Linked DNA regions of Homo sapiens. The protein of the gene in region 5 interacts with the protein of the main gene of each other region in a pairwise test. Each region holds a gene or a part of one and is shown on either strand. Other genes may lie near its edges. The genes, in order: FAM222B, KRTAP8-1, PROP1, ZIC1, SMUG1, GLYCTK and PATZ1.

Region 1 (4,750 bases), on a different chromosome or scaffold from region 5:
CAAAGTGCTGGGATTACAGGCGTGAGCCACTGCACCTGGCCTATTTAAATTTTTTTAACATTCCTCATTGAGCACTCAACTTGTCTTTTTTTCTTCTCTTTTTCCCCCTTACGTTGTATCTTGGGCCTTATGTGTCCAAACTCTGAAGAGAGGAGACCAGCGCTGGAGTTGAGAGAGAAAAAAGAGCCATGGTGATGAGGAGAGAGTTTAGTCCTGTACCTCCTCTTGCCTGCTGCTTTCAAGTCTGTTTTGTTGAATTCTCAGGACTCGATTGAGCTTAGTCTCTTGTCAGGCTATGCCAAAGCAGCACAGTAGTCTAGGGACTGACAGTTGGGCCTCACTGGACTTTAGTGGTTTTCTTTTACCAGTTTGAAAAAGGGCCAGGCTCACAGTGAGAGCTGGAAAGCAGGGGACTATTTGCCTGCGAATTCCTCAATAGCATACACGCGATGCCTAGAACATTTCTGTCCAATAAACAGCATGTGCTTGATAAACATACTGAACTTAGCGGTGTCCCCAGTGCATTCTAGGCGAGGTCACCTCCTTGACAAGGTCCCCAGGACTTCATTGCACCTCCTAGCTAGTAGCGTATTCTAGGATGGCAAAGCTGCCTTTACATAATTACCCCCGATACATTCTAGACACGATCATCTTGAAAGAGACCCAAATTTTACCAGGCATGGTGACTCAGGCCTGTAATCCCAGCACTTTGGGAGGCCGGGGCGGGCGAATCATCTGAGGTCAGGAGTTCGAGACCAGCCTGGCCAACATGGTGAAACCCCGTCTCTACTAAAAATACAAAAGTTAGCCAGGCGTGGTGGTGCAAGCCTGTAATCCCAGCTAGTCAGGAGGCTGAGGCAGGAGAATCGTTTGAACCCGGGAGGCGGAGGTTGCAGTGAGCTGAGATCGCGCCACTGCACTCCAGCCTGGGCAACAAGAGCAAAACTCCGTCTCAAAAAAAAAAAAAAAAAAAAAAGACCCAGGCTGGGCGCGGTGGCTCATGCTTGTAATCCCAGCGCTTTAGAAGGCTGAGGTGGGTGGATCACCTGAGGTCGGGAGTTCGAGACCAGCCTGACCAACATGATAAAACCCCGTCTCTACTAAAAATACAAAATTAGCTGGGCGTGGTGGTGCATGCCTGTAATCCCAGCTACTCGGGAGGCTGAGGCAGGAGAATCGCTTGAACCCGGGAGGCGGAGGTTGTTTGAGCCGAGATCACGCCATTGCACTCCAACCTGGACAACAAGAGCGAAACTTCGACTCAGAAAAAAAAAAAAAAAGACCCAAATTTATCATCAGTGGTCACCTCAGAGCACCTGAATTCAGGCCTTTAAGTGCAAGTAGGATGCAGAATTCTGGAAGAGCCAGTAAGTCTGTGGCTCCTTGGGGAAGCGCGATCCAAGGGTTTAGTAACCTAGGCACGGTACTCCAGAGGCGTACCCTGAGGCAGCCGCCAAATTCTCTAAGCCTCAGAATTCTTCAAGGCCAGCTCCCATGTCCACTAGAGACCCAGGGGTCCAGACCATCAGGCACTGAGGAAGACGCCCCCGGCAGGGGCTGCGCAGGCGCGTGCGGCCCGAAAGGGCCCAGGCGCTACACGCTGCGCAGGCGCAGGAGCGGCTCCGGGTAGTCCCCACAGCTGCGCCGGTGACTGAGGGGCCGGGCAGTGGAGAAGTGGTGGCGGCGGGCGGCGGGCGGCAAAGGAGCAGCCATGAGGGCCGGGCCCAGTCACCGACCGTGAGTAGTGGTGGAGGGGGAGTGGACAACGCGTGGGAAGAGGGTAACTTAGCGGAAGGATACATGACTTTGTGGGGTGGGCTCTGACTGTGGGAGACGGAAGGGCGTGGGGGAGGTACAGTTTGAGGTGATGATGGGAGAATTTGGGGCACGGGTGGCCCGGTCGCCGGCCGCAGAGCTGGACAGCTTGGTGGAGGGGGACGGGGTTGCGTGCTGTGGAGTGAAGCAGCCCATTTGTATCATCCCTTCCTCCAGGAGCTTTTGGTCGCCTCTCCTTTCCGCTTCTTTCAGAGAATGATTGCGGGGGGAGGGTGGTGGAGGATGAAAGCTCTGCTGGAGCTTAAGAAGCCACCTCTGAACCAGGCAGGGGAAGGGTCGGTCTCCCGGAGTAATAGGCTGCTCTGGGTAGAGGATGGGAGTCGGGAACCCTCTTTTGAAAGCCGGGAGGGGTCTAGGGAAAAGAGCTAGGGGCTTAGAGTCAGGCAGGTTCGAAAGGAAGTCCACCATTGATAAAGCTGTTAGGTAACCTTGGGCAGGTCCCACTTAACCTTTCTGAACACCAGGAAGATGTCATGCTTCAAACGGGCTATTGCAAGCATCACCTATGTAATTGAGATTGTTTATGCAAATTGTGAATTGTAAGTACTATGTTGATGTTAATGTATCACCAACAATGTTAGTGGAATTTAGACCTTACCGTTGTTAATGGAATGACTGATTTCTCTGTTAAGATAAGAAGCGTATTGTTTGTAAAACCTCAGTAGACACATATGTGCTTTCTTTATGGGCACAGCAGACCATGTGCAGAACTACCAGTTCTGTAATGTGATAAATTAGCCATCAGACTTCTGTAGGAAAAATACCGTACTCCGGCGTTTTTACAAACGGTTTGCAGCTCCTCACCCGAAAGGATGGAGGGCCAATCTATTAAAATATTTTCTGAACATAGCTAACTCATGTTGCCTTATAACACAGTTGGCACTAATGTGCTTTAACGAGTTGAGAAAAGGCCGGGTGCAGTGGCTCATGTCTGTAATCCCAGCACTTTGGGAGGCCGAGGCGGGCGGATCACGAGGTCAGAAGTTGGAGACCAGCCTAGCCAACGTAGTGAAATCCCGTCTCTACTAAAAATACAAAAAATCAGCCGGGTGTGGTGGCGGGCGCCTGTAATCCCAGCTGCTTGGGAAGCTGAGGCAGGGGAATCACTCGAACCCGGGAGGCAGAGGTTGCGGTGAGCCGAGATAGTGCTATTGCACTCCAGTTCGGGTGACAGTGCGAGACTCCGTCTGGAAAAAAGAGTTAAGAAAACTAGTTTGAGACAAGCTGGGAGGGCTGCCCAGTGAGGGATGTGAAAATATAATTTGTTTATTATATTTTATTTTATTTTTGAGACGGAGTCTCGCTCTGTCGCCAGGCAGGAGTGCAGTGGCATCATCTCGGCTCACAGCAACCTCCGCCTCCCGGGTTCAAGCGATTCTCCTGTCTCAGCCTCCTGAGTAGCTGGGATTACAAATGCCCACCACCACGCCTGGCTAATTTTTGTAGTTTTAGTAGAGATGGGGTTTCACCATGTTGGCCAGGCTGGTCTTGAACTCCTCACGTCAGGTGATCCACCCACCTCGGCCTCTCAAAGTGCCGGGATTACAGGCGTGAGCCACCGTGCCTGGCTATTTTGTTATCTTTATTTTTATTTTATTTTATTATAATTTTTTTTGAGGTGGGTGAAGGAGTCTTGCTCTGTCACCCAGGCTGGAGTGCAGTGGTGCGAACTTGGTTCACTGCAACCTCCGCCTCCTGGGTTCAAGCAATTCTCCTGCCTCAGCCTCCCTAGTACCTGGGATTATAGGCACGTGCCACCATACCCGGCTAATTTTTGTATTTTTTTTAGTACACTCGGGGTTTCTCCATTGCTGGACAGGCTGGTCTCAAACTTCTGACCTCAGGTGATCCGCCCGCCCCAGCCTCCCAAAGTGCTGGGATTACAGGCGTGAACCACCGTGCTTGGCCCATTTTATTATTTTTAAATTATAAAAAGTTCTCCTTTGCAAAGGAGTCTCTGGCTGCTCCGGGGACCTGTCGCTGTTTTGGAGGTCAGATATGCATAAGGCAGCCCTCTAGCTCTGCTTTTTGTTACCCTGCTTGTCAGTGGGATCTCTCAGGTGGAATATCTCAGAAGAGGAGCCCAAGAGGTGTCTTGGTTTTCCTGAGAGGCTGAAGAAACACTCCTGAGACGTGTTTTTTAATGTAGACAAAGCAGAGGACAAACTATGTGTTTATGGAAAGAGAAAATGGGTTCTTTTTATTTTATTTTGTTTTGACACAGAGTCTTGTTCTGTCGCCCAGGCTGGAGTGCAGTAGCGCAATCTCGGCTCATTGCAACCTCCACCTCCCGGGTTCAAGCAGTTCTCCTGCCTCAGCCTCCAAGTAGTTGCGATTACAGGCACCCACCACCATGCCCGGCTAGTTTTTGTATTTTTAGTAGAGATGGGGTTTCGCCATTTTGGTCAGGCTGGTTTCGAACCAGGTGATCCGCCTGCCTCGGCCTCCCAAAGTGCTGGGATCACAGGCGTAAGCCACCAAGCGCAGTGAGAAAATGGTTTCTAAAGTAGAGATGCAGACTCCTTTTAAAAGGACATAGACACTTCAGCTTTGCTGACTCTGAGGATTGAGACCTTAAACTGTCAAGGCGTTTTGGCAATTGATGAGTGATTGGTCTTTTACCTGAGTAAAGGTAGGGAGGGGCTATACTAGATTCTTGAAGATTCACAAATAAGGGGAGTGAATTTACAGGAATGGGAAAAATGAACCTGGTTGTTTTTAACTTCTCTGTCTGGTAAAATGTGTTTCACTTTTCTTTCCTGGAAATGCACAGTGATGTATAATTTTAACCTTTTTACTTTAGTTCCTTGACCGTCCCAATAGATTATTTGTCTATAATACTTTGTTTAAGATAATAGTTTTAAAAATAAAGCATTTGTTACTATTGTGATAGGTCATTACAGAAATTTATTCC
Region 2 (3,247 bases), on a different chromosome or scaffold from region 5:
GCTGAAACCCTGTCTCTACTAAAAATACAAAAATTAGCCTGGCGCAGTGGCATGCACCTGTAATCCCAGCTACTCGGGAGGCTGAGGCAGGAGACTCGCTTGAACCAAGGAGGTGGAGGTTGCAGTGAGTCCAGATTGCACCACTGCACTCCAGCCTGGGCAATAAAGCAAGACTCTGCCTCAAAAAAAAATTATATATATATCTATATTTAAAAAAAATGCCTCTGCTGTAATTAGTCTACTGCTGGCTAGAACACTGGCATGGTTTTGAATTTTCCAAGTGTCTCATCTTGTTCTTGGATTCAGCCTTTGATTCCTAGCTGCTGATAGCAGGGAGCAAAGTTACCTCTGGGTTATGAAGTAAAATCTGGGAGAGCTCATGTGTAATACATATCTGTTTTGTGGCCTTCTAGAATGATTCCTATTATCTCTGTGCCTATTTCTGTTCCATATGCCCTCTTTGGTATTTGTTCTGTAAGTTCTCTACTAAGTGCCACTGTAAGAAATCTTAATGCAGGTGTCTGAGAATAATATATCAGGTCTTACATGATCCAAGATAGTTTTGATCAGCCTTATCCCTCCTTTAACTCATGCTTGAGAACTGACTCTCTGTTTAGAAAGGAATAACATTCCTTCTTTATCCTGGGGTGCATGATCATTGTAAAAGTGAAATAACTGATTTCATGTTGTCATCTGGCCCTTTATAATATCATCACATTTGTCAGACAATCTAGTTTCATTAGATCTAAGAGAAAAAAAATTTTAAATCTTACAATAAATTTTTTAATTCATTTTTCTGTGTTTACCTTATTAGTTTCAATGTTTAGTTTGAAATATGTTTCAGGCCAAAAAATTAAATTTGTTTGACAATTCAGTACAAGGATTAATCCAAATACTCCGTTTTAAAATCTCAATACTATTAATTCAAGTAGTCTTCTAGAAATGTGATGTTAGGTATAGTTTAGGAGGGGACTATGATTAAGATTACACTTTTAACCAGTTTCCCAAACACGGTAGCTGTAGTAGAGGAAAAAAAAAAGACTCTTTCTCATGAGTTCCATTGCACTTGTCTTTCATATTCCAAAAAAGAGAATCCTTGAAGCAGGTGAATACTAAGACATACTTTAATTTTGAGAATTTTGAGATAGACTCACTATCCATTTGTTATTTTATATATTAATGTATTTAACACATATTTATTGAATTTCAACTGTGTGTTGTGGAAATTCAGAGAGCAAGAGGACTGCATAACAGCTAACAACCTCAGAATATTTCTTGATATTATATACCTGCTTACAGAGTTATATGGGGTCTATAAGACAGAGTGCTTTGAAGTCCTGGCAATAATTTTTTTTTTTTTAGGAAGGGAAATAATTTGTTTAAAGGCATCTTCTCCCTGTATTGCATCACACGAGAGCTTTCTTAAGCCACTGTAAAGACATCATAAGCAAGAGCAAAACAAGTTAATGAGCTTTTTAGAATGTAAATTGGTGTCAAGAATGAAAATGAGGGCTTTGTGTTTTTCACCACCCACCAGAGCTGGGATATATAAAGAAGGTTCTGAGACTAGGAATCCATCCCACTGAGGAAACGCACTCTGTTGCTACCTAAGCCCTCCACTCCCGACACCATGCTCTGCGACAACTTCCCCGGGGCTGTCTTCCCAGGATGCTACTGGGGCAGCTATGGCTACCCGCTGGGATATAGCGTTGGCTGTGGCTATGGCAGCACCTACTCTCCAGTGGGCTATGGCTTCGGCTATGGCTACAACGGCTGTGGGGCTTTCGGCTACAGGAGATACTCGCCATTTGCTCTCTACTGATTGGCTGAAATCCCCGAGGTGTAGCATCTTCTCTCCCTTGAAGGCTGAGCCCCACATCTCCAGGTTCCCCCCGTATCCACTCCTTCAGTCCTCATTTGCTCATCAACCTCAGAGACACTGCTTTCCAACTTACCTCGAGTCCCAGGGGAGGAAAATGAAAAAGCAGACGCTTCCTCAAGCTGCCTCCCCTGGCTGATGTTCTCTGGGACATTTTCGGAAATTTGACCTCCCACTTGTCATGAGCTACTTTTGAATTTTCCATGACACTCATGACTTGTGATGAAGTCATGGATATGTCTATCAAAATCTCAATAAATTTGTCTCAGCTGGTATAATATTCTCATGCTAGAGCGAAGTTTCCTTTCTTGGTGTGTGCATATTTTCTGTTACATGGGTGGTGGGGGGGAAGTGAATTTATTTTTCTCATGTGGGCATTAGGAACAGCCAGAAAGCAAAGAATTACTGATCCTGTGTGATAAGCAGGTAAGAGGGTGGGTTGCAGGTAATGACTTAAAAGGTTGCCTGTTTGAACCTTCTTTAAATTTTATGATGCCCACCTCCAACCCAATGGAGCACCATTTATTGCTCGGGGTCCCCTTCTCATCTCACTACTTCTGCTCCTCCGCAAGAAAACCCAACACAGGAGGAACTTTTTCAGTCACTTCCATGTTAGTCCAAATGAAATCCACTGTGTTCCCTTTCCCAGGGACTAAGGATTATAGACTAAAGTGCCATGCCCCCTAATGAAGGATGCTGGAGCATTGAGTAATAGAGAAGCCACAGACATCCTTTGGAAATCTGAGAGTTTTTAAGGTGAAGGGATAAATCCCCTATATCAAACCATCTAAGGTGTCTATTTTGTAGCTTTGAAGCACCTGGGTTATTCACAACCATGACAAGTTTCTTAATCTTTATAGAATCAACACCAGATAGCGAGTTTCACTTAAAAGATATGAGCTGTAATGAATATTTCTGAAGATGTATCAGCTTTTCTCTGTGTTCCTTTAGGGAAGGGAGCAATTTCCTTTTATAAGCCAGATAAAAAAAGTCTCAATCCTTCTATTGAAAACATCTTATGTATAGTACAAATATTCTTGGTGGTAACAAAATTTGGCTTAACCCTGCTTTTTTATTGAATATGTGCAAGTGATTATATTGCATATGGTTCACTTCGTAGTTAAAAACATAAAGACTATTTGGCGAGGTCATTTCAGAAGAGAGTATTTTCTCCACCATACTTTATCTAATGTATATCTTTTTTAAAAAATCGGGAAATAATTGATTGTTTTCCTTTTTAGCGATAGTAGACAAGGTTACAGCCAACAAAATCTCCAGTTTGCAACTTTCTAGCAGCCATATGTTAATTCATGCTGAGAATTGTGAATTAATTAAACATGCAGGTTAAAATAGAACAGAAAAAGAAAA
Region 3 (4,823 bases), on a different chromosome or scaffold from region 5:
GGTGACTTAGAGGGTCACAGAGTGATTGTGAGCCCAAGATGTTGTGCTGAGTGTAAGGTACAGAGGTCAGAGCCTCTTGGAGGGTCTGTGTGTCCTGGAGAGTGAATGCATCCTCAGTGCCCTCAGCATTCAAGGACCTGACAGGGCCAGAATGGGTACCCCAGGCAGCAGGATGCATTGTAATTCAGTGTTCTCTTGTGAGTCCAAGCTGACTGCATGTCACTGGGTCTTGCTAGGTTAGGACTGCCATGGGGTTCAGGGTGCTCCAGGAGGTCAAAGTGTGTCCTAGGGTAGGGGAGAAGGGTTAAAATTAGAGCAGTGTTTCCCAATTTTACGTTGCTATGGACTAAACGTTTGTGTCCCTCCAAAATTTCTACGTTGAAGTCCTAACACCCAACGTGATGGTATTTGAAGGTGGGGATTTGGGGAGGTGATTAGGTTTAGATGAGCTCATGAGGGTGAGGCCCCATGATGGGATTAGTGTCCTTACAAGCAGAGGAAAAGAAACCAGAGCTGGTTCTTTCTCCACCATATGAAGGCACCGAGAGAAGGCAGCCACCTGCAAGCCAGGAAGAGAGCCCTCACAGGGGAGCCAAATAGGCGGACCCCTTGATCTTAGACTTCCCAGCCTCCAGAACTGTGAGCAATAGAAGTCTATTGTTTAAACCACACAGTCTATGCTATTTTGTCATGGCAGCCCCAGCTGACTAAGACCCACGTGCACTCGGTTCTCCTGGAGATCTTGATACAAGGCAGATTGTGACTCAGTAGAATGGAGGTGGGGCCCAGGGATCTGCATTTCCAACATGCTCCCATTGCTGGTGCTGCTGCTGCTGCTGATCCATGGACCACACGGTAAGCATCGAAATCCTAAAGGATTCTGATTTCCTGTCTTGAATCACCAGCGTGTTTTTAAAGGACCTGTATGACGGCATGACCCTGGGAATCAGACTGTCCTGTGGGTACAGTGTGTTCCAGGGGGTCCATGTGTTCTCACTGGGTCAGTGTATCCTGAGAAGCAGAGGTGAAGTGTTCTGGGTGTCAGCGTGTCCCAGGGGATCCTAAGGTCCTGGGCTGTTGCATCATCCTTAAACTGTCAGAGTGTCCTGGGGATGTCAGAATGTACTTCCCAGGTCTAAGTAACCTCAAGGGGCAGAGTACTGTGGGACCAGGCTGTCCTGACTGCTCAGAGATTCCCGGTGTCAGGATTTTCTTGAAGAATCAGAATGTAGTATGTCACGGGAATCTCAGTCTCTTTCCAAGTCCTGGAGTCTGGAGTGGGTTTGGGGGTCAGGATGCAGCTGGAATGCAGATGTTCAGGTCAGGGTTTTCGGAGAGTCTGGGTGACCTTGGAAGGTCATGGTGTCCTGGGGGTTCTGGGTGAATGAGGAAGTGGTGTTTGAGGGAGGAAATCAGAAAGTACTTGAGAGCTAAGGTGTCCTGGAGGCCCATTCTCCGGAGTGGGTTCAGGTTGGCCTGAGCACTGGCTGGTGTGTTCTGAACTATCAGGGTATCTGAGAGGGGCCAGCATGCACTTGTGACTTCTCCTTTTTTAGTTTCCTGGAAGCAGATCCTTGAGTGTCACCCCCATGCTGAGACGCCAGGCAGGCTCCACTCCTGGGTCCCTTTCCCCTGCTCTTCGTTCCTCTCCCCACAGTGGGGTTGTGAGGAGGGGGTCTCGGGAGGAATGCATTTTCTCCTCCTCCCCCTGCCTGCTCCCAGGAGGGGATTTAACAGGACAAAAGAATCCGGTCCTCTGGGAATACGAGCCCTTGGCCCCAGTCCCTGGACCCTCCGACAGAACACCTTCCCTCATCCGGCTTGTGATCCTCCCTGAGCAAGGGGGCTCTGGTGACCGTGTAGTGATTGGATGGGCCCACAGGGGCGAGGAGGAGGTCACTCCTCCAAGACTCAGGGGTGGGATGGGAAAGTAGGCAGCTGACAGAAGGGAGCAGCATCCCGGTGGGGAGAAGGGCCAGGCAGAGAAAAGTAGTCAGAAACAGAGCAACAGGTGAGGCTGAGGCAGGAGATTGAGCTGACACTCAAGCCAAGGAAGGGGGAATTAGGAAACAATTAGAAAAAAAGTAAAGACAGTGAAAAAGTCAGAGACAGCTGCCTGCACCTACACACACATTCAGAGACAGAGTCCCAGAGGGTGGCATACACAGAGGGAGAAGGGGAGGGAACAGGTGTGGAGAGGAGCTGCGGAAGCAGAGAAATCTCAAGTCAGAGATTCAGGGACACTTGGTCCCCGTGGCGAGCCATGGAAGCAGAAAGGAGGCGCCAGGCTGAGAAGCCAAAGAAGGGGCGAGTCGGCAGCAACCTGTTGCCTGAGAGACACCCGGCCACTGGGACCCCGACCACCACGGTGGGTGAGTGACCGTCCCGGTGTGCGTGGGTCCCTGAGGAGGCAGCGGGTGTGAGGCTGAAAGCATAGGCTCCATGAAGAAGGTTAGGAGGAGAAATTAAAACCCGAATCCTATCATGTTAAAACTGTGGGAACCTTTGAAAGTAAAAGGGACTGGAGCACCCCTTGGCTTTACAGACTGGGGAACTGAGCCCTTGGCAGGAGGGGGCGGCTGAACAGCTCACATTGCAGTGGGGATGTGAGACAGTTACCTCTGTCCCCTCACTCCTGACCTCAGAGTTGGTTAGCCCAAGCCACTGCCTTCTCTGATGAAGGGAGCTGGAGGGGCCAGGGCTTTGGGTCCAGGGCGGGAGGGCGGGCTCCGTGTGTGTGTCCCCCATGGTGGACAGTGAGCTCTAGGAGGGTCCACGCCCTTGGGCCCCATGGGGATGGTGCCTCGGCTCCAGACATCTTTTCTTGGTGTGCGCCTTCCAGGTGTGTCCTTTCCCTCCCCGTTCTCTCCTCCCCAACAGCTCTCAGACTAATTAGTGTGGGGGCTTAGGGAGCCTGTGGGGAGGAAGGCAAGCCTTTCCCACGAGCTCAAGTTCCTGCAGCCTGGTGGCTGGGCCAGGGCAGGGGTAGGGAGGAGATGAAAAGTAAGTAGGGGAGGGTGTGTCTGAGCGGAAGAGGGGGGTGCCCATCTTCCCAGGTGAGGGGTGCGGGAGATGGCAGCAGTCTGAAGAAGGCACAGGTTGAACAGGAGCCTCGCCAGCAGGGGACAAGCACTAGGGTCTTCCGTAGACAGCTGGGACGATTGTTAGGGTGCAGGTGCACACAGCAGACCCACAGGGTGAGCCCCAGGTGGTCGTGTGTGTCCAGAAGGGTGAACGTACATGGAGGGGTATGTGTCTGGCAGTGCAATAGGAAGTGGGCAGACAGTAGAGTTGCCAGGTAGACAGTGCATGAGTGCCAGGGCCAGGAATGAGTCTGAGGGTGTGCCCTGTGTAGACAGCACAGCCTGGTGTCAGAGACTCAGAGGCAACCAGGGGCCGAGGCTGAGCAGGGTGCAGGAACCAGGCTATGGCAGCTAAAAGATTCCCGGTGGGGCAGGGCTGGGTGCGGTGGCTCAGGCCTATAATCCCAGCACTTTGAGAGGCTGACATGGGAGGACTGCTTGAGGCCAGGAGTTTGAGACCAGCCTGGGCAAGATAGCAAGACCCCATCTCTAATTTTTTATTTTTTTAATTAGCTGGGTATGTTGGTGTGCACCTGTAGTCCCAGCTACTCAGGAGGCTAAGGCAGTAGGATCACTGGAGCCCAGGGGTTCGAGGCTGCAGTGAGCTGTGATCACACCACTGCACTCCAGTCTGGGAGACAGAGCAAGACTCTGTCTCAAAAAAAGACTGGAGCAGCACAGGACGCACTGAGCGCAATCCCGGGACAGGCACATGTGGTCCAGCACCGAGGAGCGTCCTCCTCAGAAGCCGCCCCTCCCTTCTCTCCGTTCTCAGACTCGAGTGCTCCACCCTGCAGAAGGCTCCCTGGTGCAGGAGGGGGGAGATCAAGGTTCTCCCCGCAAGGAGGACAGAGGGGCCGCCCGCACTCCCGGCGCCGCCACCGCACCACCTTCAGCCCAGTGCAGTTGGAACAGCTGGAGTCAGCCTTTGGGAGGAACCAGTACCCCGACATCTGGGCCCGAGAGAGTCTTGCCCGGGACACTGGCCTCAGTGAGGCCCGAATCCAGGTGATGCTCCAGGATCCTCCTCTCTCAGGAAAGAAATGCAGATTTCTTTGGTGCTATCATAGAATGTTGGGCATTATAACCCTAACCTAAATGGTCACCAGACACAGGCCTCATCTCACCACCAGCATCAGAGCAACTGCATTGAGAATATCATATCACTTGAGTTTAACCCTAGCTATAAGCTAATCTAACTTGAATTTCAACACCTACCCTCAATATTTAATAGTGATGCCAATTCCGGCTGGGCACAATAGCTCACACCTGTAATCCCAGCACTTTGGGAGGCCAAGCTGGATGGATCACCTGAGGTTAAGAGTTCGAGACCAGCCTGGTTAACATGGTGAAACCCCATCTCTGCTAAAAATACAAAAAATTAGCCAGGCATAGTGGCAGGTGCCTATAATTAATCCCAGCTACTCCGGAGGCTGAGGCAGGAGAATCACTTGAACCCGGGAGGTGGAGGTTGCAGTGAGCCAAGATCATGCCACTGCACTCCAGCCTGGGCAACAAGAACAAAACTTTGTCTCAAAAAAAAAAAAATAGTGATGCCAATTCCAACAGAAGTTCAATCCTAACTGTCCATATTCTTACAGAAGCTTGTCCCTAACCATAGCCTTGAAACTCAATGAGCCAAATGCTCCCTCAATCCTAACCCCAGGGTTGGTTAGCCTTAAGTGTAAACCCTACCCTAAATTCAAGCTTGTCTATAGCAATTACATTTATCTACAGTCT
Region 4 (4,739 bases), on a different chromosome or scaffold from region 5:
AAAGAAACTACGCGCAGTTGTTGAATAGACTTTGCGCTAGGCAAAGACAGGTTAATCGAGGGCCGCATCGCGAAAACAAGCGAGTGTTGTATGTTTGCACTGAATCCAAATGTCTGCATTTTCCTAACTAAATCAAAGGGAGTGTTATTTCTTTTTCTGCTCACTCATCTGAAGGTAAGTAAATTTTCTCTGGCGATCAAAAGCCTGGTCGGCAACAAAGACCGCGCCCGCTTTTTCCACCGTCCTGGTGTGGCGAGTTGCGGAATTTCAATAACTGTGACAAGGGTGACTGATTTGTGAACTAGAAAAGGTTTGAATGTCACAAAATTTACATTGGTCCTATCTATTGGGGATTTAAATACCGAAAAAGTATTCGGGGATCTCTAGGGAGCTTTGGGCAGCCCAAGGGAACAATAGCGCGTTGGGAAATTTACAGTTTTACCTGAATGAAAGGGGCCCAAGTAGGGAACAGGAGTGAGGAGAGACAGGGTTAGCGGGGGCAGTCGAAGGAGACAACGGAAAGGCAGAAAACAGAAAAATAACGCAAGAGAGAGAAAAAGTAAAGGAAACTGGCAACAACGTTTCAAATTTGCCATTAAAAAATTCAAACCTCAATAACCTGGGAACTTAAGCGCTTTCATCCACCTGTGTGTGTGAGTGTGTGTGTGTGTGTGTTTTCGGGGAGGGGGGTGCGGTGGTGCCGGAAGTCTGATTAGATAAAAGCGAGAAATACAGAGGCTGCCGGTTACACTGAGAAATTACATTTTTTTGTAAAGAGAGCATAGTGCCCGTGTGCTCCCAAGATCTTAAATTATAAACAGGAGGGGGACAAAGCAAGAGGGAAACAAACTTCAAAAGGAGCAAATAACAAAAGCCTCTTTTGCTGCTCTTGAAGGGAGGGGGGAAGGGGGAAGAAAGAAAAGAAAGTTGCTGAATCGGGACATTCTGGAAGTGCCTTTGCTGTGTTTACTAGCCCCATCCCCGCCTGCTGCACCCGGAGACGTCTGAAGTCTCTAATCGCTCAGCGAAAAGTTGGTTTCGGGAAGGGCAGCGCCGGGGTGCGGGAGGGCAAAGGAGGAAGAGGAATGCATATGACTGTGAGAAGGAAAAGTAATCGTGGCAAAAAAAAAAAAAAAAAAAAAAAAAGAAAGAAAGAAAAGAAAAAAGAAAAAAAATTTCCGTGAGAAGAGGGAAAAAATTTGGCTAAAAAAAAAGTTGCTACTCCTGGCAGCCCTGGTTTGTCAAAAGGGGATGTCAAGCGCTTTACAATACCTGGGATTGATGAGGCGGGCGGGCCAATGAGCTGCGCGCGGCGCCTCGGCGCGCCCTCCGTTGGCGCGGCGGCTGAGGGCGGGGGGAATGCGGGCGCACCAATGGGCGCCAGCGTCGGCAGCACGTGACACCTCCCCCCTGCTCCCATTCATCAAGGGGGGGACGGTGTCGTCCTTTCAATTCATTTATCTGCAGGAATGATTGCTGCTATCAGTCTCGCGCTCACCGCCCGGCTGAGGAGGTGAAAGTTTCTCCCCAGGAAGATAAACCGCAAAAGACAATATTGTGCATGATTTGCGCCTTTTCTTTGGCTTTTTCTTTCTTTCTTCACCCCCCCACCCACTTTTTTTTTTTTTTTTTTCAAAAAGCAGAGAGGGAAAAACGGAGAGTGAAGGAGCGAGGAGGCGAGCGTGAGAGAAAGGAGAGAGAGAGAAAAGAAAGGGCGAGGGGCTAGTGGAGAAGTAAGGAGGGGCGCGCTGCGCGAGGCGGAGAGAGGGCGAAGCAGTCGCGGCACTGGCGCTCACATTCCTCTATGCTACAAATCCAGGAGGAAGTTTTTTTTTAGGGGGCTGAGATGCTCCATGCCTTTCCCCGGGCAGCCTTGACGCGCGGCCCTCTCGGCAGAGACTGAGCGGCGAGAAAGTGCGAGCCGGGCCGGCAGAATCTGCCTGGCGGGCGCTGGAGCCTGCGTTACTCGCGGCCCGCAGCCGTCCGGCTACTTTGCGTTTGGCCCGGCCAGCGCCCGGGCGCGCCGCGCCATTGCCTGCAGGCTAGGACTTCGCGAGGTGGGTCGACTCCCCCTCCCTCCTCCTCTTCTTCCTCCTCTTCCTCCTCCTCTTGTTCCTCCTCCTCCTCCCGATTTTCCCTCCTCGGCTGGCGAGGGTGGGGGGGGCGGGGGAGGCCGGGGCTCGCCCCGAGCAGCCACGATGCTCCTGGACGCCGGCCCCCAGTACCCAGCGATCGGCGTGACCACCTTTGGCGCGTCCCGCCACCACTCCGCGGGCGACGTGGCCGAACGAGACGTGGGCCTGGGCATCAACCCGTTCGCCGACGGCATGGGCGCCTTCAAGCTCAACCCCAGTTCGCACGAGCTGGCTTCGGCCGGCCAGACGGCCTTCACGTCGCAGGCGCCAGGCTACGCGGCTGCTGCGGCCCTGGGCCATCACCATCACCCGGGCCACGTCGGCTCCTATTCCAGCGCAGCCTTCAACTCCACGCGGGACTTTCTGTTCCGCAACCGGGGTTTTGGCGACGCGGCGGCGGCAGCCAGCGCACAGCACAGCCTCTTTGCTGCATCGGCCGGGGGCTTCGGGGGCCCACACGGCCACACGGACGCCGCGGGCCACCTCCTCTTCCCCGGGCTTCACGAGCAGGCTGCCGGCCACGCGTCGCCTAACGTGGTCAACGGGCAGATGAGGCTCGGCTTCTCGGGGGACATGTACCCGCGACCGGAGCAGTACGGCCAGGTGACCAGCCCGCGTTCGGAGCACTATGCTGCGCCGCAGCTGCACGGCTACGGGCCCATGAACGTGAACATGGCCGCGCATCACGGCGCCGGCGCCTTCTTCCGCTACATGCGCCAACCCATCAAGCAAGAGCTCATCTGCAAGTGGATCGAGCCCGAGCAGCTGGCCAACCCCAAAAAGTCGTGCAACAAAACTTTCAGCACCATGCACGAGCTAGTTACGCACGTCACCGTGGAGCACGTAGGTGGCCCGGAGCAGAGTAATCACATCTGCTTCTGGGAGGAGTGTCCGCGCGAGGGCAAGCCCTTCAAAGCCAAATACAAACTGGTTAACCACATCCGCGTGCACACGGGCGAGAAGCCCTTTCCCTGCCCCTTCCCTGGCTGTGGCAAGGTCTTCGCGCGCTCCGAGAATTTAAAGATCCACAAAAGGACGCACACAGGTACGGAAACAGCTGTAGGACCCCTACCCATTCCCACTTGGGCCTGGGACCCAAACCGAAAGTCAGCGGCCAGGTCGCACAAACGCAGCCTCGGTGGGATCCCGGGCGTCAGGTTCCGGCAGGCAGGCAGGGAAAGTGTGCGCTGATTTTTAGTTTCTGGCTTGAAATTATGGAAAACACACACACACACACAGGGCGGACGAGGAGGAGCTGGGTATATAGATTTTTTAAATGAGAAACAAAAAAGGTCGGAGAACAGGAAGCCAAACCTGGTTTGGCGGAGACCTTGGTGCTTTCGAAGCCGGAGAAAGTGGCTGGCTCCCGGCAGCCGCGGAGGCGCCAGCTGCTCAGGCTGCAGACAAATCTAAACCCTTGCTTGCTGCCAACATCTCTCTCCGTGCACTTCACTGAGGACTTTGCCAAAGGAAAGAGCTGAGGAAATTGAGGAGGCCGGGTTAAGGGCGTAGAAAGAAACAAAACAGAGACAGAAAGAATTGAGACAGAGTGGGGAAAGGAAATAATTTGGGATTGAGGAGGCTTTTGGAGCTTTATGCATATTTGAAGAGTTCAGTTTTAGTAGTGACTGGTTTTAAGAGTGGGTTTGAGGGGTGGAGAAAGTCCGAGGAAGGCAAGGAAGAACTTGTTGTCTATTAGACTCCATGAGGGTGTTTTCAAAACACCAGATTCCCCTCTTTGGCCTTTAAAAATAATCAAGACACAGGTCCGGAACAGTTAAAAAAAAAAAAAGTTCCCACGAGCTCAGGGTTGTAGCCTGGCATCAGACAAAACATTCTGGGCCCCCTGCCCCCAAGAGGCCGGGAACTGGGTCTCCTTTCCTATTCTGATTTTCCCGGGTGAGATCTGAGAACCATGCTTGAGACTTCGGGTTTAACGCCCGAGTCAGGGAAGAATTTGCGGCGTTGAGTTCTCTCCGGCCCAGATTACGCTATAAAATGTGAGTGTATGTAGGGAGTGGGGTGGGTTGGAGGAGGCGACCAGGGGATGCGGAGCGTCGGGGAGGGGGCAGGGGGAGGAGAGAAAAGCAATAGGGCAGGAGAATAAGCCGCAAACGTGAAAACTAGAAACCAGGAGCCAGGTGGAAGCAATCCGAAATCGTGTGTAGCTCTGGGTAATACGAGTTTCCAGATCTGATGCTAAAAACCGACTCCTCCTACTATTAATTTTTTTAAACATAAAAATAAAATGTAGATCCAATTGTATTAGGGATTACAATAGAGTTAAGATATTTATAATTCCACTGCAGATGTAAGAATTTATTGACGTTCCGGGTTTTTAAGCTTGCAAAGTGCTAATCCTGGGCTGCTGGCTTTTTGTTTTATTTTTTTTCTATTTGTTTAGTTTTTGAAAAACGGCCGCGGTATTTTTTTCTAATTAGACCCCTCTCATTCTACTTTGGCACCAGGGGAGAAGCCCTTCAAGTGCGAGTTTGAGGGCTGTGACCGGCGCTTCGCTAACAGCAGCGACCGCAAGAAGCACATGCACGTGCACACGAGCGACAAGCCCTATCTTTGCAAGATGTGCGACAAGTCCTACACGCA
Region 5 (3,804 bases):
GGGTGTGGTGCTGCGCACCTGTAATCCCAGTACCCAGGAGGCTAAGGTGGGAGAATCACTTGAACCCGGGAGGCAGAGGTTGCAGTGAGCTGAGATCGCGCCACTGCACTCCAGTCTGGGCGACAGAGCAAGATTCTGTCTCAAAAAAAAAACAAAACAAAACAAAACAAAAAACACAGATTCCCAGGCCTCACACGGGACCTACTTGTGTTGGGGGTGGGGTTGGGACACTATGGCAAATACTGCAGTGTTCTGAGGAGGGAAGACTTTATCAAAGGGATGGTTTGAGCTGCATTTTGAAGGATGGGAGTGATTTGGATATGTGGACAGGTTGGGGAATCAACAGTCCTAGTTGACTGGATGACTGCTGGATGATGTCCTGGTTGACTTCAGGAGTGTATTTGGTTGGACTGTAGAAATGGTATGTGCAAGGTTTTGGGAGTTGAGGCAGGAAAGGCATTTTGAAAATGTGAGTAGAATGGTCAGGTTGGAACACTGGGTTTGAATGGGAGTGGAGTGAAGCAATGGCCTTTGCAGTTTACAAAGCTTGCTGTCATGTTCCTGCCCCCTCCCTTCTCCTTCCTCCCACCTCCCTTCTCTCTTCCCTTTCTTCTTCCTCTCCCATTTCTTTTCTCCCTTCACCTAAACATAACATCTCATTCCATCCTTACGTCTGTTTGTTTGTTTTGAGACAGTCTCCCTCTGTAGCCCAGGCTGGAGTGCAGTGGCACAATCTCGGCTCACTGCAACCTCTGCCTCCCAGGTCCTGGTTCAAGCAATTCTCCTGCCTCAGCCTCCCATGTAGCTGGAATTACAGGCACGTGCCACCATGCCCAGCTAATTTTTGTATTTTTAGTTGAGACGGGGTTTCACCATGTTGGCCAGGTTGATCTTGAACTCCTGACCTCGTGATCCACCTGCCTCAGCCTCCCAAAGTACTGGGATTACAGGCATGAGCTGTTGCGCCCGGCAAATTTATTTATTTATTTATTTATTTATTTATTTATTTATTTATTTTTTATTTTATTTTTTTTTGAGATGGAGTCTTGCTCTTTTGCCCAGGCTTGAGTGCAGTGGCACGATCTTGGCTCACTGCAACCTCAGCCTCCCGGGTTCAGGCAGTTCTCCCTGCCTCAGCCTCCCGAGTAGCTGGGATTACAGGTGCCCACCACAACGCCCAGCTAATTTTTTTTTTTTGAGAGAGAGTTTCACTGTTGTTGCCCGTGCTGGAGTGCAATGGCACGATCTTGGCTCACCGCAACCTCCACCTTTCAGGTTCAAATGATTCTGCCTCAGCCTCCAGAGTAGCCGGGATTACAGGCACGTACCACCATGCCTGACTAATTTGTATTTTTAGTAGAGGTGGGAGTTTCTCCATTTTGGTCAGGCTGGTCTCGAACTCCCGACCTCAGGTGATCTGCCCACCTCAGCCTCCTAAAGTGCTGGGATTACAGGCTTGAGCCACCACGCCCAGCATGCCCAGCTAATTTTTGTAATTTTTAGTAGAGACGGGGTTTCGCCATGTTGGCCAGGCCAGTTTTGAACGCCTGACCTAAGGTGATTCAGCCGCCTTGGCCTCCCAAAGTGCTGGGATTACAGGCATGAGCCACCATGCCTGGCCTTCCTTATGTCAACATTATTAAGTGGATATTATTATTCTTTGTATTTGAAGGTGGAAACCTGAGGCTCTGGCCATGGTTGTGTAGCTCGTAAGATTCTATGAGGAGTCTGTAATCATCCTACTCGGTATTCCTGAGTGTGGGAAAGAAGCTAGGCTGGGGTTAGGGGGTTGTAGAATTAGCAGGGTGGCTGATCAAACCATCTAAGGCAAGATGGCGTGGGTGGTTAAAGCATAGCCTTGAGCCAGAGAGATTGGGCTCAACCAAATCCAGCTTTATTACTTACTAACTGTAAGACCTTGGGCAAGTTGCTTAATCTTGCTAAGCCTCAGTGTCCTCACTTATAACAGGGGAGCAGTAATACCCACCTCATGGGATTGTTGTGAGGATCAATGAGGTGTACCTGGTGCAGAGCAGTCGCTCACCACCTGGAAGCTATTGTAATTAGCCTTCCCAGGTCTCTGGGCTGTGGCTGTGCACTTGCATTTCATTCTTCAGCGCCGTGCTTTCCAGAACAGTCCATTCTGGCTGGGCTTTTCTTTTTTAGGATGACCTTAAAGGTGCTGAAAGGATGCCACCAGTAAATGTTTATTGAAAACCTACTATGTGCTCGGCATAGCCCAGGAACTAGTGACCTATGCCTGATGGAAAGGAGATTTGGAGTGGGAGATGTTTGGTGGCTATGGCTTATCCTCACCAGGTGCCATGTGAAGAGGACAGATAATGGAAGTGGGGAGGGAAAGGGCCCTTCATTACCAAGAACTGAGATGAGTTCAGTCCTACTTGGTGGTTGGTAGATGACTGACATGGTCTCTTAGGGTCCCTTCTGAGCCCAGGAAATGGTAGTGGGGGCCCTGGCAAGCATGGATCCCTCCTACTCTGTGGCTGAGGGTTGATGGGGCTTCTGTCCATCTCTTTTCCCAGGTGACAGCGGCATGGACATATGCCCCAGGCTTTCCTGCTGGGGTCCATCCATGAGCCTGCAGGTGCCCTCATGGAGCCCCAGCCCTGCCCTGGAAGCTTGGCTGAGAGCTTCCTGGAGGAGGAGCTTCGGCTCAATGCTGAGCTGAGCCAGCTGCAGTTTTCGGAGCCTGTGGGCATCATCTACAATCCCGTGGAGTATGCATGGGAGCCACATCGCAACTACGTGACTCGCTACTGCCAGGGCCCCAAGGAAGTACTCTTCCTGGGCATGAACCCTGGACCTTTTGGCATGGCCCAGACTGGGGTAAAGGGTTTGGCTTCCCCAGTGGGTGGAGTGGGGGGTTCTAGGTGGATGCTTGGCTGGGTGTGCTGTGGAGAAGGAGCATGTGCATGGCTGTAGACATGTGTAGGTCCTCCCGCCCCATTCTGTCTCAACACATATACTGGCTCCTGTGGTCCGAGGCCCTCTCCCAGCGTCTCTGCCCGTAATTAACCAAGCACATTAATGGTAGTTTCGTTTTCCCTGTGAGCTGGCCAGTAATTGCCTCTGAGAGCCCTTCCTTCCGCCAGCCCCATCCTTACTTTACTGGATCTCCCCTGTCCCTGAAGTGTGGTTGGGGTCAGAAGAGGGACTAGGACTGCTGGGTCCTCAGAAGAGACTGGTTGACAGGGGTGGGTATGTAAGAGATGCAGGGCGTTCTGGGAACCTGGGTTCTGTTTCCTAGCTAAGGCGAGGTTCAAAACAGAGCCTGGCTCCAGTGCCTGCCCGCTTTTCTTTCAGGGCTCAGGATGAGTGACTGCCCCCAGTGGGGGTGCTTGGCAGGTGGGGGAGGGGAAGAGGCTTCAGGGCAGAAGGCTCAATCGCTTTTATTGACCCCAACTGGGTGATGAAAGGTGATCAATGATGATCGATGGAAATGACAGCCTGAGGCTTGGGGCTGAGAGGGCATCCAGACAGCAGTGGTCAGCCCATCCTTGTGCCTCCTTTAACCCTGGCTGCCTTTCTGTCTCAGACCATCTGTCTGTCCCCAGTACTAACCATCAAACCCTGTGTAGGGCTAGATATCTCAATGTAGTCCCTGTACTTAGTCCCAAAGGCTAGTTGGGCTAGAGGGAAACAAATTCTTCTGGACCACGGTTCACAATGAAGAACTGGAAAAAGACAGACAGGCTCAAACCATAGGGCCAAGAATCCTTGTCTCAGGCCTTTGGGTGAAGGTAGGGGTAGGGGGTGCAGGCTGGATCCTCATGTAAGGTATAA
Region 6 (3,209 bases), on a different chromosome or scaffold from region 5:
CTCCTTGGCCTTGGCTGTTTGGTTAACTGTCACCTTCCACTCAGGGCCTCTGCTCTATATCTATTCCCTTCCAGCCAGACTGGCAGATGGGGGCTTCCCCCTACCCCTGAGGATGAGGACAAGCCCCTCGGCCAGTTCAGCGTTCCCGTGCTTCTCCCTTGGGCAGCCTCTCTCTTGAGCCCCTCACCCTGTTTCTTTCTGTGAAGCGAGAATGTCTGAAAATAAATAGGACCATGCCATGGGTTCTCAGTGCGCCTTCCCTCAGAGTGAGGCCTCACGGGGGAGCCGCTGGGAGGGGAGCGTGGTACGGCTGCAGCCACAGTACCAGGGCCTGGCAGGACTCTTAACACCCCTCTACTGGGCTGGGTACGTGCAGGATGTGCCTCGCATAACGGGAGCCTGTGCCCATCCCTCTGGAGTGTGTGAGGGTTGAGCTTGGCTCCTGACAGCTTTGATGTGCGTGAGCAGAGACCCCAGGGAGGACAGGCCTAAAGACTGCAGTCTGGGGTGACCAGCCACCCACCCACCCAACCATGACTCCACCATGGCACTGTCACCATGGCTTCTCCAGCCTCAGCTTGTAGGCCTCGTTGGATGGATGTCCTTTCTGTCTTTGGACAGCCCTTAGCCACATACTGCACTTCTGGTTGAGCTGAAGTTTGTCCCACCCCCCAGTGCTGTTTCCTTGTGACAGCCCTTGTCCTAGGCTGAACATCCCTAGTTCCTTCAGCCACTCCTCTGGGGACCAAGTCCAGACCCTGAAGTCAGCCCTTCAGTGGGGGTCCCAGCACTGGGATGGTGGGTCCAGCCAGTGATGAGGTCCAGTGACCCACACCTCTTCCTGTGACCACTGGCGGGAGAAGAGGCAAGTGGGAATAGAGGAACGGCTGTGTTGGCCTGGCCAGCAGCCTGGGTTGAGAGAGGGAGGTGCCACTGTCCTGCCTCCTTTTGAGCCCCCTTGCTCAGTGTCAGAACCCTCCGCTGGCTGTCCCCGCCGTGCGCCACGGCTCCAATCCCTATATGAGTGAGCAGTAGAATCACATAGGAATAAAAAGCCATAGAGAACAGCGAGGCCTGGGGCTGCTCTTGCAGGCACTTCTTCCACCCCAACCCTCCCCTCCTCCCTGAGGGTGTGGAGGGGCCCTGGGCCAGGGCTGGCAGGACTTTCCCCTGGGAAGGGTTTCCCTTCCCCACCTGGGCTCTGGGCAGCCTAGCTTGCAGACAGTTCATGACCTGGGGGCCTGGCTCACACAGGGCAGGCTGGAGATTGGGAGGGAGGTAAACGTGGTAAGCGGGCTCTGGGGACCAGGGAGGTTTAGGAAAAGGGGAGCTTGCACCCCACTGGGATGCGCAGGCACCGCTTCCTTTCCTTCTGTGCTGGCATGGAGTTCCTGCTGACTAGGGTCACAGTCTCTGGGGTTATGGTGATCCTCGCATGATCCTGTGCCGTGGTGCTCCTCTGGCAGCGTCTACATGTAGCCTGTTCCTGCCTCAGTCCTTGCTCTTGGGAGCATGAGTATTGGCACTGGGTTCCAAGTTCCAGGCAAAAGCAGGATAGGAGAGCTGGGGCAGGGGCTGCAGGAGCTGAGGGCCTGGCAGCCATGTCCCCAGTGTGTGTGTGGGTGGTAGGTGTGTGAGTATACAGACGTTGGTGTTGGCGTACTCAGAGTGGGAATGCATCTCTGAGTGTACACATAGATACTTAGTACAGGGCACATGACTCCCTGCATCCCTGCTGAGGGCTTTGGGTATGGATAGGATCTTGCAGGAGGTTCCCCCTGCTCTACATTGACCCCTTCCCTATACTTCTGTTTGTAGGGGCTGGGAGGCCAGGGCCCGGATTGGACCCCATAGGGCCAAATGGTCTGTGAGCCTAACCCGTTAGATTTGCTCACTGGATACCCCAGAGATAAGAAAGGATGTATTTGGCCACAGTCTAAATGCTGAGATGAGAAAACCCTGCACAGTGAATGTTTTGATAGGATTCATTACTTGCTCCATAAATGTCAATTTTGGATCATTGAAGTGCCCGTCCCTTGCTCTTGGCTTCTGTTTCTTCCGGCTGCTGCTGCCCTCGTGCCCACCTCATCGTCATTTTCTGAAGCTTCCCCTGGCCCAGCTGGAGGATTTCACCATGGAGGGTGTCTGGCCCTGCTGGCTATAGCAACCCTCACAGGCCTCTCCATTCTCTGCACTTGGCATGAGCCAAGAGCAGTGGGGCAGTGGGCCTGGGCAGCCCTTCAGTGTCAGCTAGTCCCAAGCGTTTGATTTATAGTTGGAGATTCAGAGAGAGAAGGTGGCTTACTGGGGACTGTACAGTCCCACATAAGGGCCACAGAACCAGGGTAAGAACCTAGTTGGAACCTGCTTGACTATCCTCTGCCACTCTCTGGGGCTCAGATACCCTGGGGCCAAGCAAGGGCTCAGCCAGATCCAGGGGATCTACTTCTGCTTCCCCACTGCCCCTCAAGGGCTTGGGATGGCGACACAACCATGCTTGGCCTCTCCAGGGATCCACACAGCAGATGTGTTGGAACCTTCTTGTCTCAGAGGGACAGCTCCATTGTGTGTGTGATTTGGCAGAAAACCATGCGCAGTTGAGTGGTGGGCTTCTACATAAATGTGTGTCTGCATCTGTATGCACATCTGTGTGTGTGTGCATGTGTGCGTGTGCATGAATATATGTATAAGCATGTGTATGTGTAGTGCAGCCCACAGCCAGTCTCTGAGCTCTGCTGTGCCCCATCCCAGGGTGGAGACACACAGGTGTAGTTAGAGTGTAGGGGATACAATGAGCAAGTTGGGCAAGAAGGCCCAGAAGACTGGCAGAGGCTAGTGTGCCTGGCCGAGGGAGTTGACTTCACATTGACATCAGTGGCAAACCTCATGAAGATTTTGGCAGGGAATAATGTCATGAAGCTGTTTTGGGACTTTAATGCTGAGAGCCAGCTTCCTTACAGCAGAGGGCGGGGGTTGGGGGCATGCAAGGAGATGGAAGGGGTTGCAGATAGGAGAGGTGCATTACCAGGCTCTGAGACCCTCTCCCACCTCCCCTATGCAGCCTCAGCTCCAAAGCCTTTAGCCAGCCCAGGGAACCCTTTAGATGCCTGCTTTGGAACCAAGGCCGAAAGCCCTGGCTCAAACACTGTTGGGAGTAACTGAGCCCATCTGTCTCTGGGAATGCCTCAGGGTGTTGAGGATTTGTGGGG
Region 7 (4,244 bases), on a different chromosome or scaffold from region 5:
GGCTTGACAGTGGCATGTCTCTTTGGGACTTGGCCTGAGTGTCCTTAACTGGCCCAGATGCCCCAGGTACTGCTGGATTTATGAGCTTAGTGGGCTGGGACATTTCCCCCACATGGAGTTCAACCTGAAGCTGAGAGGCTGGAGCAGCTCAGACCTCCCTAGCTTCCACGGGCTCCACTTCTTGGGGGCTGGTTAGAGAAGGAATGCGTTGAGATGGGCATATGCTCGAGAAGAAGGGGGCCAAAGAGCCCAGGGAGCTGAACCTTCATGCATTGCCCTTAGAGTTTTCCAGGGCTGTGGGAGAAAGCTGCTTGAGACTACCCCTGAGGCTGCCTGAGTTCAAGGGCTACTAAGGGTGGGGGTGTGCACTAGTGCCCTTGGTACCACTTGGGCCCCATTCCCAAGCTGCTCAATCCTTAGGAAGAAAAGCTTTAGGAAGTCTGGGAAGGGAGCAGGACTGGGGCTCAGTGTTGAGTGGTGATGACCTGCACTCAGGGTGCCTGGGCCAGGACCTGGCAGGCATGGCCCTTAATTACAGCAGGCTGTCTAACTAAGCACAGGGCTGTGGGCCGGGCAGCTCTTCCGAGTGCCACAGGCAGTCAAAGCATTCTGCCTCTGGCTCACTCTCTTCCCATCAGCGTCCCTCTGTCTTCTCCCTGTCTCTAGGACAAAGAATGCTCTTCTCCTGACACCCCAGCATGGAAGTTCTGGATGTTCCCTTTGAGATCTGTCTCCCTCCGCCCCTTCTCTCCTGGGTTGTGTGACCAGGCTCTTTCATGTTCTGTGTTGTCTGAACTTCTGCTGTGCCTAGACTTTGGACTTTCACAGGCTCCCCAGAAAACCTGGGGACTGCAGCAGCAGAGGGTCAATCCTGGCACAGAGAAGCCAACAATCACTTCAGCTTGGCTTTGAACACAGGGAAAGCGTTTGTCATGTTTGTGTTTTTTCCCCCAGCAGCAGATTTACATTCCTAATTCTGTTTGCTCAGGCGAAAGTTAGCTTTCATTCCTTGAGAGATAATCAATGGAGGACAGGGTGGGGGAAGCCAGCCCAGTCTGGGATTTTAATTTTGCTTAGCTAATCCCCAAATGGATAAGCCACTTGTGGGTAACTGAAGTTTGGCTATCCATCATCTTTAGGTAGCAAAGCATGACAGGCAAAGCCTTTAGAGGACAGATCCCAAAAGAAGGTTGGCAAGAGAAACAAGGCATCTCTTTCCTATCCCTCTTGTGGCTCCCTCTCCCAGAGACTGTGGAAGACAAAATCCTGAATATGCTTTCAGCCCCCGAGTAGCTGGGACTACAGGCGCCCACCACCATGCCCAGCTAATTTTTTTGTATTTTTAGTAGAGACGGGGTTTCACCATATTGGCCAGGCTGGTCTCAAACTTCTGACATTGTGATCCACCCGCCTCGGCCTCCCAAAGTGTTGGGATTACAGGTGTGAGCCACTGCGCCTGGCCTCAGCCCTGTTTTCTTACACCTGATCCATGTTGGTTCCTTTGAGTTCTGAGGCTTAGAACACACCCTCTCTCACCATTGGAGGGGTGGTCTTTGGGTCGCTGCCTGGCAAAGCTAGCTCTTGTCCCCAAATAAATCAACAGGTGTACCTCTCTTTCCCGGGGGTGTTTATGCAGCCCCTGCTCTGGTTTAGAGACTGCTGGGCTGTGTAGAGGTTAGGAGTTTTTTTCTCCTACTGTGGCCTGTCACTGGGTCATGAGGTCCCTGGCTGACGTGGGGCCCACATGTGGCCATGAGAGCAAGCATCCATGGTGCTTTCTGACTTCCTACATGCTGGAATTTCCTTGCACAAATCTGTTCACCTTTCCCTTTTGGGAGTCCTGGCTGCCAAGTACTGTACACTGTGTTATAAAGTATGAGCACCTTTCACTCAGCAGAAGCTCCCTCTCCTGAATCTGGAGATGGTAAGAGCACAGGCTCTGGGACTGGTTCTTAGTCCAGCTGTCTCATATCCTCTCACGGCCTCCACTGGCCCAGCTGTAAACTGGGAGAGATCAGAATCCCCCAGGGTGTCCAGGAGGATTGGTAAAGTACTGGCCTGGGTGTGGTGGGGGTGGGTGTGCTAGACTTTCTTTAGTAGCTGAGTCTTGTGTTTTAAGCAAGTTCACCTTCTGAAGGTTTCCTCATTTATGATATGAATACACTGAATATATAAAACAGATAAAAGCAGTATGTCATTGCTACAAATTCAGTTCAAATGTATAATGTTTACTTAAAAAGACAATGACAGAAGAGCTAGGTAGGCTGTGCTAACGTACACAGATATTTGGGACTGGGGTAGTAAACAGTGGTGTCTTCTACCTTGACAGCATTGCATGCGTTTGTTTCTTGCTATGGCTGTACAGTAAGGAGACAGTTAGATGTCTGTATGTGTTGACAGTGTTCAGCCACTTACCTTGAGCTCTCAGGTTCTCAGGATGTGCTTCTGTTAAAGAGAGATGGCAGAGGCAGTTCCGTTCTAGCACAAGGTAATGGGGTGGTCTTCAGTGGGTTACCATTTGATCTGTGACACAAAGGTGAATGTTGCTTTCTCTTACAGTTCTAAAACAGTAAACACACACACACACAAAAGAAATGAGTCAAAATTGACTAGAACCCATGAAACACCTCCCTGGAACCAAAATAGCTTGAAAGCCAACGGATTCAGCTCTTCTCAGGGCTTTCCCAATATTCTATGACCCCCACAGCTGGAATGCCTTTGTAAGCTCCAGCTGAGGAAGGGATGTTGTGAGGAGACTGATCACTGGTACTAAGTCAGGTGCTCAGGTACAGGAAGTGCCTGCCAACCTGAGTCCTCCTTCCAGGGTGCTGGTTCTGACCTTCAGCTCCTGACTCATCCAACCCCGGGGGCCTGGCTGTGAGTTGGTGCTCAGCTCACACCACAGCTTTCCAAAGCCACGCTGTCTTGGAGGGTGATCACACAGCTTGCCTCGGAGGGCTGCTGTCAGGATGGGTTGCATGAGATAAGTGCCTCTAAAAGGCTGAGCACCGTGCCTGCCTGGCACACAATGAATGCTTAATCAATACAGGGTAGTATCATCATCCTTGCTGTCACCAGCACTTCCCCAGCTTAACGTTTCACAAATGCTTTTTTTTTTTGAGACGGAGTCTTGCTCTGTTGCCCAGGCTGGAGTGCAGTGGTGTGATCTCGGCTCACTGCAAGCTCTGCCTCCCGGGTTTATGCCATTCTCCCGCCTCAGCCTCCCGAGTAGCTGGGACTACAGGCACCTGCCACCATGCCTGGTTAATTTTTTTGTGTTTTTAGTAGAGACCGAGTTTCACCGTGTTAGCCAGGATGGTCTTGATCTCCTGACTTCGTGATCCGCCCGCCTCAGCCTCCCAAAGTGCTGGGATTACAGGTGTGAGCCACCGCGCCCGGATTTTTTTTTTTTTTTTTTTTTTTGAGAGGAAGTCTTGACTTGTTGCCCAGGCTGGAGTGCAGTGACACGATCTTGGCTCACTGCAACCTCTACCTCCCAGGTTCAAGTGATTCTCCTGCCTCAGCCTCCCAAGTAGCTGGGATTACGGGAGTCTGCCACCACACCCGGCTAATTTTTTATATTTTTAATAGAGATGGGGTTTCACCATGTTGGCCAGGCTGGTCTTGAACTCCTGACCTCAGGTGATCCACCCATCTCGGCCTCCCAAAGCGCTGGGATTACAAGCATGAGCCACCGCACCCGGCCCACAGACACTTTTGAAGCCTCTGGCCCTTGCTGTCTGCTAATTCTCATGTCGTCAGAATTGCCACTATCATTTAATGGGCTGCTTTTTCAATTCAAACTCGTGAAAATATTACGAATAATTATCTCTGCACTTTGTCCTGCCTTTCCTTTCCATTTCCCTGGCCAAGACTAATGTCACTTTTGAATAAAATGAACAAATATAATTCTTTGTATAAAACTAGGGGAAACCCAGGGATACAGAACAGGAAGGCTGGTTTATATGCCAATAACTCATCTGTAAATTCATGTAAATGTAATTCTGTGCATTATAGCTAATGCACCTAAAGTCAATTCTTAATGTCTAAGGATGAGCAAATGTGTAACTCTTCATTGTGTAGAGGGGTATAGAGCTTAGCTTGCCATGTCCTGGGTACATTTCCAGTAGTCATTTAGTTAGTACCAGTGATTCCCACTCAAGTGTCCCGTAAGGAGGTACCATGGGAAATAAGAGCAGCCTCTTGGCATTCTGGGTAGGGAGCCTGAGCCAAACTCTAAAGCT

The links.
Region 1: the proteins of SMUG1 (region 5) and FAM222B interact in binary tests that used the Homo sapiens proteins (3 or more experiments, as listed by UniProt).
Region 2: the proteins of SMUG1 (region 5) and KRTAP8-1 interact in binary tests that used the Homo sapiens proteins (3 or more experiments, as listed by UniProt).
Region 3: the proteins of SMUG1 (region 5) and PROP1 interact in binary tests that used the Homo sapiens proteins (3 or more experiments, as listed by UniProt).
Region 4: the proteins of SMUG1 (region 5) and ZIC1 interact in binary tests that used the Homo sapiens proteins (3 or more experiments, as listed by UniProt).
Region 6: the proteins of SMUG1 (region 5) and GLYCTK interact in binary tests that used the Homo sapiens proteins (3 or more experiments, as listed by UniProt).
Region 7: the proteins of SMUG1 (region 5) and PATZ1 interact in binary tests that used the Homo sapiens proteins (3 or more experiments, as listed by UniProt).

Annotation. Positions count from the first base shown.
Region 1 is NC_000017.11:28,839,669-28,844,418, reverse strand, and holds the start of FAM222B (protein FAM222B), read left to right. Parts: upstream 1-1,628; 5' UTR 1,629-1,737; intron 1,738-4,750.
Region 2 is NC_000021.9:30,811,604-30,814,850, reverse strand, and holds KRTAP8-1 (keratin-associated protein 8-1), read left to right. Parts: upstream 1-1,576; 5' UTR 1,577-1,630; coding exon 1,631-1,822; 3' UTR 1,823-2,154; downstream 2,155-3,247. UniProt on the Homo sapiens protein: In the hair cortex, hair keratin intermediate filaments are embedded in an interfilamentous matrix, consisting of hair keratin-associated proteins (KRTAP), which are essential for the formation of a rigid and resistant hair shaft through their extensive disulfide bond cross-linking with abundant cysteine residues of hair keratins.
Region 3 is NC_000005.10:177,993,374-177,998,196, reverse strand, and holds the start of PROP1 (homeobox protein prophet of Pit-1), read left to right. Parts: upstream 1-1,954; 5' UTR 1,955-2,263; coding exon 2,264-2,372; intron 2,373-3,858; coding exon 3,859-4,091; intron 4,092-4,823. UniProt on the Homo sapiens protein: Possibly involved in the ontogenesis of pituitary gonadotropes, as well as somatotropes, lactotropes and caudomedial thyrotropes.
Region 4 is NC_000003.12:147,407,915-147,412,653, forward strand, and holds the start of ZIC1 (zinc finger protein ZIC 1), read left to right. Parts: upstream 1-1,450; 5' UTR 1,451-2,198; coding exon 2,199-3,180; intron 3,181-4,603; coding exon 4,604-4,739. UniProt on the Homo sapiens protein: Acts as a transcriptional activator. Involved in neurogenesis. Plays important roles in the early stage of organogenesis of the CNS, as well as during dorsal spinal cord development and maturation of the cerebellum.
Region 5 is NC_000012.12:54,182,699-54,186,502, reverse strand, and holds part of SMUG1 (single-strand selective monofunctional uracil DNA glycosylase), read left to right. Parts: intron 1-2,543; 5' UTR 2,544-2,562; coding exon 2,563-2,847; intron 2,848-3,804.
Region 6 is NC_000003.12:52,293,233-52,296,441, forward strand, and holds the end of GLYCTK (glycerate kinase), read left to right. Parts: 3' UTR 1-2,025; downstream 2,026-3,209.
Region 7 is NC_000022.11:31,335,985-31,340,228, reverse strand, and holds part of PATZ1 (POZ-, AT hook-, and zinc finger-containing protein 1 isoform long C), read left to right. Parts: intron 1-2,207; exon of another isoform or gene 2,208-2,561; intron 2,562-4,244. UniProt on the Homo sapiens protein: Transcriptional regulator that plays a role in many biological processes such as embryogenesis, senescence, T-cell development or neurogenesis. Interacts with the TP53 protein to control genes that are important in proliferation and in the DNA-damage response.